Linked DNA regions of Homo sapiens: all the other regions are linked to region 1. Evidence: fine-mapped expression QTL. A gene starts in region 1. Each other region holds a variant in brackets. All regions are shown on one strand. Distances are between the middles of the regions. Region 1 holds the start of ABTB3 (ankyrin repeat and BTB domain containing 3). Region 2 overlaps ABTB3 (ankyrin repeat and BTB domain containing 3). Region 3 has its middle 45 kb from the start of ABTB3.

Region 1 (2,849 bases):
GGCCCACGGAGAAGGTGAGGCCGCAGCGGGCCGACTTGCCGCGGCCCAGGCGGTCGCCGCCGGCGCTGCTCATGTTGTAGAGGGACAGTGCGGCCAGCGCAGCCGCCGTACAGTGCGCGGCCAGGCCCCAGGACAGCACGATCTCCATGGCGCTCTGGATCTCGTACTTGGTGCACTTGGCGAAGCGCAGGCTCAGGCGCTGCGCCTCTTTGGCTATGCGCACCAGCGCCCGGCTCACCAGCGTCGACAGCTTGGCCAGCGCGTCCTTGGGCAGGCCGCCGGGGACCGCCGGGCCTGCCCGGGGATCCCGCGAACGCAGCAGCAGCGCCTCCAGCTCCTGGAGAGTCCAGGGGACCTCGTCTAGGTCCGGCAGCAGCCGCGAGCAGTGCTGGCCGGCGCAGTCCAGCCCCTCGGAGTCTTCCACCAGGGCAGTGTTGACAGTGTCAAAGCTGTTGTGCCGGCTGTGCATGGAGTCAGCTAGAGGCGGCCAGCAGCTCCCGCCATACGGGGACGCCGGGTGCGAGTCGGAACAGCACAAAGACAAGTTGGAGGAGCGCACCGAGTCCGCCGCGCCACCATAACCCGAGTCCAGCGTCAGATCCTCCAGCGTTCTCACCACGGGCTTCTTACCTCTCCTGGCCATCGCTGCGCCACTTCATGCTGCAGCCGCCTGGGAGCCAAAGGGAAGGAGCGGCGAGGAGCAGCGAGTGCCGCGGGGCGCGGGGAGAGCCGAGTCCGCGCCGCCTTGGCTCACTTTTCCACTAGCCGCTGCTACCAACTGTTAGTACTTTCGGCTGCCTCCCGGAACTGCCGCCGCTGGAATATACAGAGCAGACCCTGGAGTCATCTTCCAGAGTCCGGGCCGGAGCTGGGCGCAATGGGGAGCGAGCCAGGCCGGGAAGGAAGCTCCCGCCGGGGCTTGCCCCTTTCTTCCAAAATAAAAAGTGTCTAGACCGCTCTTCCCTGAGCCCCGCTGGGCGCAGTAGCCACCGGGCGCCGGCCACGGTGTTCGTGGGACTGAGACCACCCCAGATGCCGCCGCCGCCGCAGCTCCGCGGGCAGCTGGCTCCCGGCTCCCGGCTCCCAGTTCCCGGCCCTGGTTCGCTCGGCGCCAGCCTGCCCTGCACCGGAGCGCAGCAGCGGCCGTGGCGGCTGCAAACCTTGCCGAACCCCAGCAAACCCCGGGCAGCCAGTGGGACGGGCGTATGCAAAGCAGGGGCGGCGGAGAGCCAGTGGAATCGGAGAATGCTAATTACCTCGCTTTTTTTTTTTTTTTTTAAATCCCTCCTCCCCATGCGGCCCCGCCCCTCACACACGCCCCCGGCGGACACCGAGGCTGCAGGAAGTGGGGAGCAGTGGCCAGGGACTTGGGGAACCCTTGCAAGCGTAGAGACGTGGATGCTGCCCCCTGCTGCTGTCCCTGCCCGCATTCTCCCGGAGGGTGGTGGGTTGGGCCGGTGACCTCCCCACCTAGGTGTGCTCTCCACCGCGGTTCACAAGGTGTCTGCCTGACGGTCGCTCTCTCCCCTGCGGTTCGCATTTCACTTTTTTCCCCCCGTAACACCTGAAACATGGTTTTCCTCCCTCTCTATTCCCACTTCGGGTACGCAAACCAATTAGTGCGGCCCTCTTTCAGCCGGGGTTTGCTCCAGCATGGAGGGAAATAAGCCTGTCGAGCGGAGGCCCGTGGCGGTGGACACCACTGGGAGGCCGGATCTCCGGCCATTCGCCACCTGCCACTAGGGCGCGTTAACTCGATTCCTTTCAGTAGCCAGGAGGACCCTGTCCCTGCTTCAAAGTCCTGGGCGTGTGCTGCAGGGAGGGCTCAAGCACCACTTTGCCATCCTGGTGGGCATCTTTCCAAATAGCTCGGCCTTCTTAAAAGGAGTAAATTTGCTCAAAGGAGAATCTTCTTTCCTGACTAAAGAAAGATATAATATATATATGCATGGCTTAGCTGCATTCCTGTGTCAAATAGCATCGTGTCATCTACTTGTCTGTCCCCACCCACCCAGGCAGAAACCATATCTTACACACATGGGGATTCCTAGCTCCGCACACTGTGTCTCTCAGCTTAGAATCCCCTCCTATAGGAAGCTGGCCCAGATGTTTCAAGACTGGCTTCGGTGCTTCCACTGCCTCTATCCCCTTCTGTGGTTGCTGATTTCTGGGCCCTTGCAACACTAGGTTGCAAAAGCCTGGTTACTTGTCTGGATTCTACACTGGGCTAGGGGTTCCCATGCATAGTCCTGGCACAGTATAAGTGCTCAGTAAATATTTGTTGTAAATTGATGAAGGACGTAAGGATATGCTTTTAAATTGTTGCTTTGAATGTTCAACAATGGCCAACAGGTATATGCAAATATGCTCAACATCACTAATCATTCGGGAGATGCAAATCAAAACCACAATGAAATATCACTTCACACCTGTAAGGATGGCTATTATCAAAAAGTCAAAAGATAACAAGTGTTGGCAAGGATGTGGAAAAAAGAGAACCTTTGTACACTGATGGTGGGGTGTAAATGAGTACAGCCATTATGGAAAACAGCATGGAGGTTCCCAAAAATAAAAATAGAACTACCATGTGATCCAGCAATCCCACTTCTGAGTATACACCCAAAGAAAATAAAATCTCAGTCGAGTGCAGTGGCTCTCGCCTGTAATGCCAGCACTTTGGGAGGTTGAGGCGGGCAGATCACTTGAGGTCAGGAGTTGGAGACCAGCCAGACCAACATGGTGAAACCCCATCTTTACTAAAAATACAAAAATTTGCCAGGCATGGTGGTGCACACCTGTAGTCCCAGCTACTCGGGAGGCTGAAGCACAAGAATTGCTTGAACCCAGGA
Region 2 (2,500 bases), 52 kb before region 1:
TCACCCTTCTTGGAAGGTGATAGCCTTTCTTGGCCAGTGTGCTGGGTCGAAAACAACTTTTGGATCCTCCTGCCTACCCTGACAGCCCTTCAAGGCTCAGCAAAGGTATCAGCACAGAGCCACAACCAAGGGATCAAAAGCTTAAGTCACAAAACTGTAAAAAAAAAAAAAAAAAAAAAAAAAAAATCCCTTTTTTGATAGGCAGCCAAAGAAGCACCTTCACAGAGCTGGCTTTGCATGGCCTTTCAACCAAACTATTTCCAGCAGCACAGGCTCAGCAGCCCCACCAGGCCACCCAGTCCAGAGCACGGCTGCAACACTTCCCATGCTTCCCTCAAGCCTGTGACCCAGAGACCATGCTTTGTCTTGATTTTTATCTATTTTTTCAGGGGAAAGGGCTGAGAGAGGAAGGGGAGCCAGGCAGAAATACTGTGTTCCTAAAGCCCATGTGAAGAAATGCCCAGGCAAGAGCCACACTCTGAGGACTCGTCCAACATTCCCGGCTAAGCATCTACATCTACCTTTGTCTCCAAGCCTGTGGGGCTGATTGGCTGACTTTGGAAGAAGAGAAAGTGTGTGTCCCTGGAAACCTCTGCAGTGCCAATGGAAGTGTGCTCATTGGTGGGAAGGTCAACGGGAAGCTTCCACGAACCGACATGGGCCACCATGGGGATACACAGAAGGAACGAAAGAACTGAGGAGAAGTCATCCATTAGCAGGCGAGAACAAGAGGCAGTGACATTTGAGGGATCAGGAATAATGTGTTCCCAATTTATACCTACCTTGGTGAGGCCTGGGGAAAACCACTTACTGTTAGAGTTTTTGTCTGGTGACAATGATCAAAGGGAAAATAACGTTTACTGAAAGCTATGCTTTTACATATATTCTAGCATTTAACTCTTACAGAATTCCTAGGCGATACATATCATCATCGCTGTTTAATAGATGTAGAAACGGAGGCTCAGAGAGGTTGAGGGAGTAGTTCAAGTTCACGTGGCTGTAAGTGGTGGAGCCAGGAACAAGCCTGGGTTCCTCTGACCCCAAGTTTAATGTTAGTTTCATTATGCCTCACCACCTCCCAGCATTACAGGAAATCATCAGGGCTCCCCTACTCAGAATACACCAG[G/A]CAAATTCTGCCAAACAAAACTCATTCTGTTTTATTTCTTGAACAATAAGGTGCAGAGAGCTCAGAAGAGAACAAAAGCTCAGAAAAAAAAAAAAAAAAAAAAAAAAAAACCATGTTTGGGCTGGGTATGGTGGCTCATGCCTGTAATCCCAGCACTTTGGGAGGCCAAGGAGGGTGGATCGTCTGAGGTCAGGAGTTCGAGACCAGCCTGACCAACATGGTGAAATCCTGTCTCTCTTAAAAATACAAAAAATTAGCTGGGTGTGGTGGTGGGTGCCTGTAATCCCAGCTACCCAGGAGGCTGGGGCAGGAGAATTGCTTGAACGTGGAAGGCAGAGGTTGCAGTGAGCCAAGATCACACCATTCACTCCAGCCGGGGTGACAAGAGCGAGACTCCATCTCAAAAAGAAAAAAAAAAAAAAAAACCCTTGTTTGAACCTGATTTATAATAAAGGTTGCATCTCATCTTGATGGGGAAAGGAATGGTTCTATAATGTCGAGAAAACTGGCTCACTAAATGAATTTGGATCCCTCTCAAACACAATATATGAAAGTAGACTCTAAGTGGATGAAAAACCTAAATGTGAAAGCAAAGTTACAAAGCTAACAGAAGAAAGTGAAACAATACCTTTGTGAACTTAGGGCATGGAAGGTCCTCTTAAATAAAATCCCCAAGGCACGAACCAAAAAGCAAAAAGAAAAAAAAGTTGGTAGATTTGATTACATCAAAATTAGGGCTTCTGTTCAACAAAAGACACTGTGAACAAAGTTAACAGAGAGGTGGCAGAGTGGAAAGTGATATTTACAATGTCTAAACCCAACAAAGAATTAACATCTAACTACATATGTAACTCCTATAAATCAATGAGAAAAGAAAGGAAATGCAATAGAAAAATGGTCTGTAGATATGAATAGGCAGGTCACAGAAGTGGAAACCAGAATAGTCAACAGGCAGATGAAAAGATGCTCAAATTCGTTAGTAATAAGATAAATGAAAATGAAAGTAACAATAGATTCCACATTATACTCAACAGATTTACAAAATTACAATGTTGAGTAATATTGATTGTTAAACAGGATATGGGTAAATGGGAACCCCTCCGCGCCACTGGTGGGGGTCTAGACTGGCATAGCAGTTCCAGAGACTCACCTGGTACTGATTATCGAAACCAAGTTTGTATAAACCCTGTGACCCGACCAACCCACTCCTGAGTATAGATACTTGCATGGGGTCCATATGGGAACAAGTGAAAGGAGATTGTTCCCATAATGACAACATTATTGTTCACGGTACTGGGGAATTGGATGCAACTAGTTGCCCATCATTAAAGAATGGATAGACACAAAATATGATGGGTGCCAACTATGTGATAG
Region 3 (2,849 bases), 44 kb after region 1:
TCCTTACTCAGTTTGGGTCTCCCATAGGAATAAAGCTCTGAGATGAACACACTTACCATATTGTTTTAAAATCCCTCTCTCACCAATAGATTGTGAGCATATTGAGTAGATACTAAGTGTTCTTCATTCAGAAACTTTCACAGAAGACATGCACAGTAAATGTGTGTTAAATCAATGCATGAATTAGTCAAGAGTAGGCGACACCCAGTGCTGAGACCAGGCTGAACTGGGAAAGGTATTTACACCAAGGCAGAGGTGAGGAGCAGAATCAAGGTTATAGCCAAGGAGACAGGGCAAACTGTGTAGTCCACAGATCAAGGACAAAGTAAGCAGAGGTAAATACAAATGGATAGCAGAAAGAAGAAGCTGAAAAGGAAAATGGTGCATGGAATGGTTAAGGATAAATGATATAGAACTAAAACTGTGAGGGACAAATGAGCCCTAATGTCAGATGCATGGTCTAGTGAGGAATGGAAGCTTAAAGCAAGGATTTGGTGACAGTGGAGTGTGGAAAATAATCATAGGAGTGAGAAGAAGGAGGTGTGGATCCTAGTCCCAGCTTTACTACTAAAAACTTGGGTGATCTTGGACAAATCTTTTCCTTTTCCTAGGAGGAAGTTTTCTCATCTACAAACTTAAATTGCATGTCTTACGTCACTTCTAAGTTCCCTCCCAGCTTGAACGTATCATGATCCTCCAACTACCATTCCACAGTATGATGGGGGAAAATTCTTCTGTTACATAAATAATATGTAATTTTTATAAATATATAAAACATATTTTACATGTAAATATAATATTGAATCTCCATTTTATTCTTTCTATTTCATCAGCCAAGGATGTTTCTTCTGTATTAACCTCAGTTCTTCTTCTGAAATCAAGCAGATTAAACTTCATTATTTTTGAGATCCTTTCTAGATATAAAATGTTTGTTGTTCTGTAATTTTCTTTGTTCATTGAACACTCTTTGTTCCTCTTTGTGCTTGGCACTGTGGCACTCTCTGTTCTGAATAAATCTATAATCCAGTTGAAACAACAACATCTTCAAAGTGATTAAGAGAAAAACCTAAGTTGTGTAACTTAGTGCTAAATTGTGTGTTATAGACTCTAATGAATTGACAGAAATGAGGGAGATGAAGGGTAGCTGAAGATATTGAGGATATAAGGAAGATTTCCTGGAGGAAGTGGGTCTTCCAGGATAGGAAAAAAGACAGAGATGAAAGGATGGATGGATGGATGGATGGATGGATGGATGGATGGATGGA[A/TGGATGGATGGAA]TAGGAAATAGTATATTCTTTTCTTTCTTTTTTTCTTTTTTTTTATTTTTGAGACAGGCTCTTGCTCTGACACCCAGGCGGGAGTGCAGTGGCACCATCTCAGCTCACTGCAACCTCTGTCTCCTGGGCTCAGGCAATTCTCCCATCTCAGCCTCCTGAGTAGCTATCATGTTGGCTAATTTTTGTATTTTTAGTAGAGGCAGGGTTTCTCCATGTTGTCCATGCTGGTCCTTGAACTCCTGGGCTCAAGTGATCTGCCTGCTCTGGCCTCCCAAAGTGCTGAGACTACAAGCGTATGCCACTGCACCTGGGCATAATAGGATATTCTTTTTTCTTTTTCCAAAAAAAAGTCTTTATGTTCCTTTACTGGAGCAAGATTCCTGATCAGTATACAGTGATGTATTTACTAAACAGAGACCTGTGCAGAAATTACATACTATCCATCTAGATAGGTTGTGACACTTTTGCCTATTGATGGAATAGTTCCATTCATCAAGTTCTATACATCAAAAACCTTTTGAATTTCACCAGACTGTCCATTAATTCACCTCTGAAAAAGTGGCATTTAATTTCAGCTACTGTATTTTACAGCATTAAAAAGCTTATGCATTAAGGTACTTCTCTGCACAATAGCATTGAGCAGACAGAGCTGAGTCCATTATTCCACCCAGATTCACATAGTCACATTTGAGAGCTTTATACCAGAGAGTAGGGAAAGTTACTGCTAACCACCACAGACTTCTTACTCTGAGAGCCTGTCTTCTTGGCCACATTTTATATAGCCAATGAAGACGTGCCAGCAACTGTCCCATGTATAACTTGGCATTAGAGCACCAGGTCTGTTGGATGGTGGTGGCAGGCACTATTATTTTATATCCAGGTAAAAGGCCAATTTTAAAAACTACCACTTGGAGATAAAAATCAAGGGCACAATATACTCAGAAAGTATTGAGCAATCCGGTATCTCAAATGATGTGAATAATTTCAGAAAACAATGGCAAATTTTACCCATGTTTCCCAGCTATGGAGATATTAGTACATTGATTCTAATCCCGTTACTCAGTTCACATAACCCTGAGGTCATCCTCCAAAGTGCATATCAAAAAATATGAAGTTAGAGTGACAAAGTTTGAAAGTGATGTTATACAAGTCAAACTTGGAAGGTCATTGGAAGCATACCTATGCTGAGAGAAAAGCATCAAATCTTTTGTGTACACATTTAGTTTTACTGTAACAAAGCAACTTGCACACTTTTAATGTTTGAAACTGAGCATCATCTTTCCTTTCCAGTGAAACAAAAAGAAAATTTAAAAATAAATGGAACAAAATTACAATAGAGAATGTCAATTCCAAATAAGATCCTACAGGTTCTGCTGATTCTCCCATTGAGTGGCAGGGCTCAAGTCATCATTAGGAGAGAATTTATTTTAAAAGTGTCATCTTAAACAGCAAGGATATCTGTCAAATGTCACAATTAAACATGCCAAAGGAGAAGCCATGTTGTCAAAATGCCCACTTAACCCACCCAAACATCTCAAACCCACCCTTTGCTGACGTTTTATAACCCCATTTTTTAAAGTTTCT

Evidence for each region. PIP is the estimated chance that this variant, and not a neighbour inherited with it, causes the effect.
Region 2: its variant is fine-mapped to the expression of ABTB3 in whole blood (TOPMed, PIP above 0.99).
Region 3: its variant is fine-mapped to the expression of ABTB3 in monocytes (Fairfax 2014, PIP 0.95). The same link has a PIP of 0.9 or more in monocytes after interferon gamma.

Annotation. Positions count from the first base shown.
Region 1 is chr12:107,316,735-107,319,583 of GRCh38, reverse strand. ABTB3 (ankyrin repeat and BTB domain containing 3) reads right to left here and starts at 1,150. Exons shown (of 17, transcript NM_001018072.2): 1 at 1-1,150. The coding sequence starts at 643. RefSeq lists an enhancer at 1-648.
Region 2 is chr12:107,368,444-107,370,943 of GRCh38, reverse strand. All of the region lies in intron 1 of ABTB3 (ankyrin repeat and BTB domain containing 3), which reads right to left. Among named protein-coding and RNA genes, the nearest start is that of ABTB3, 51 kb to the right of the region's middle. The variant G/A (reference allele first, on the strand shown) is at 1,127.
Region 3 is chr12:107,272,305-107,275,153 of GRCh38, reverse strand. No RefSeq gene overlaps it. Among named protein-coding and RNA genes, the nearest start is that of ABTB3, 45 kb to the left of the region's middle. The variant A/TGGATGGATGGAA (reference allele first, on the strand shown) is at 1,266.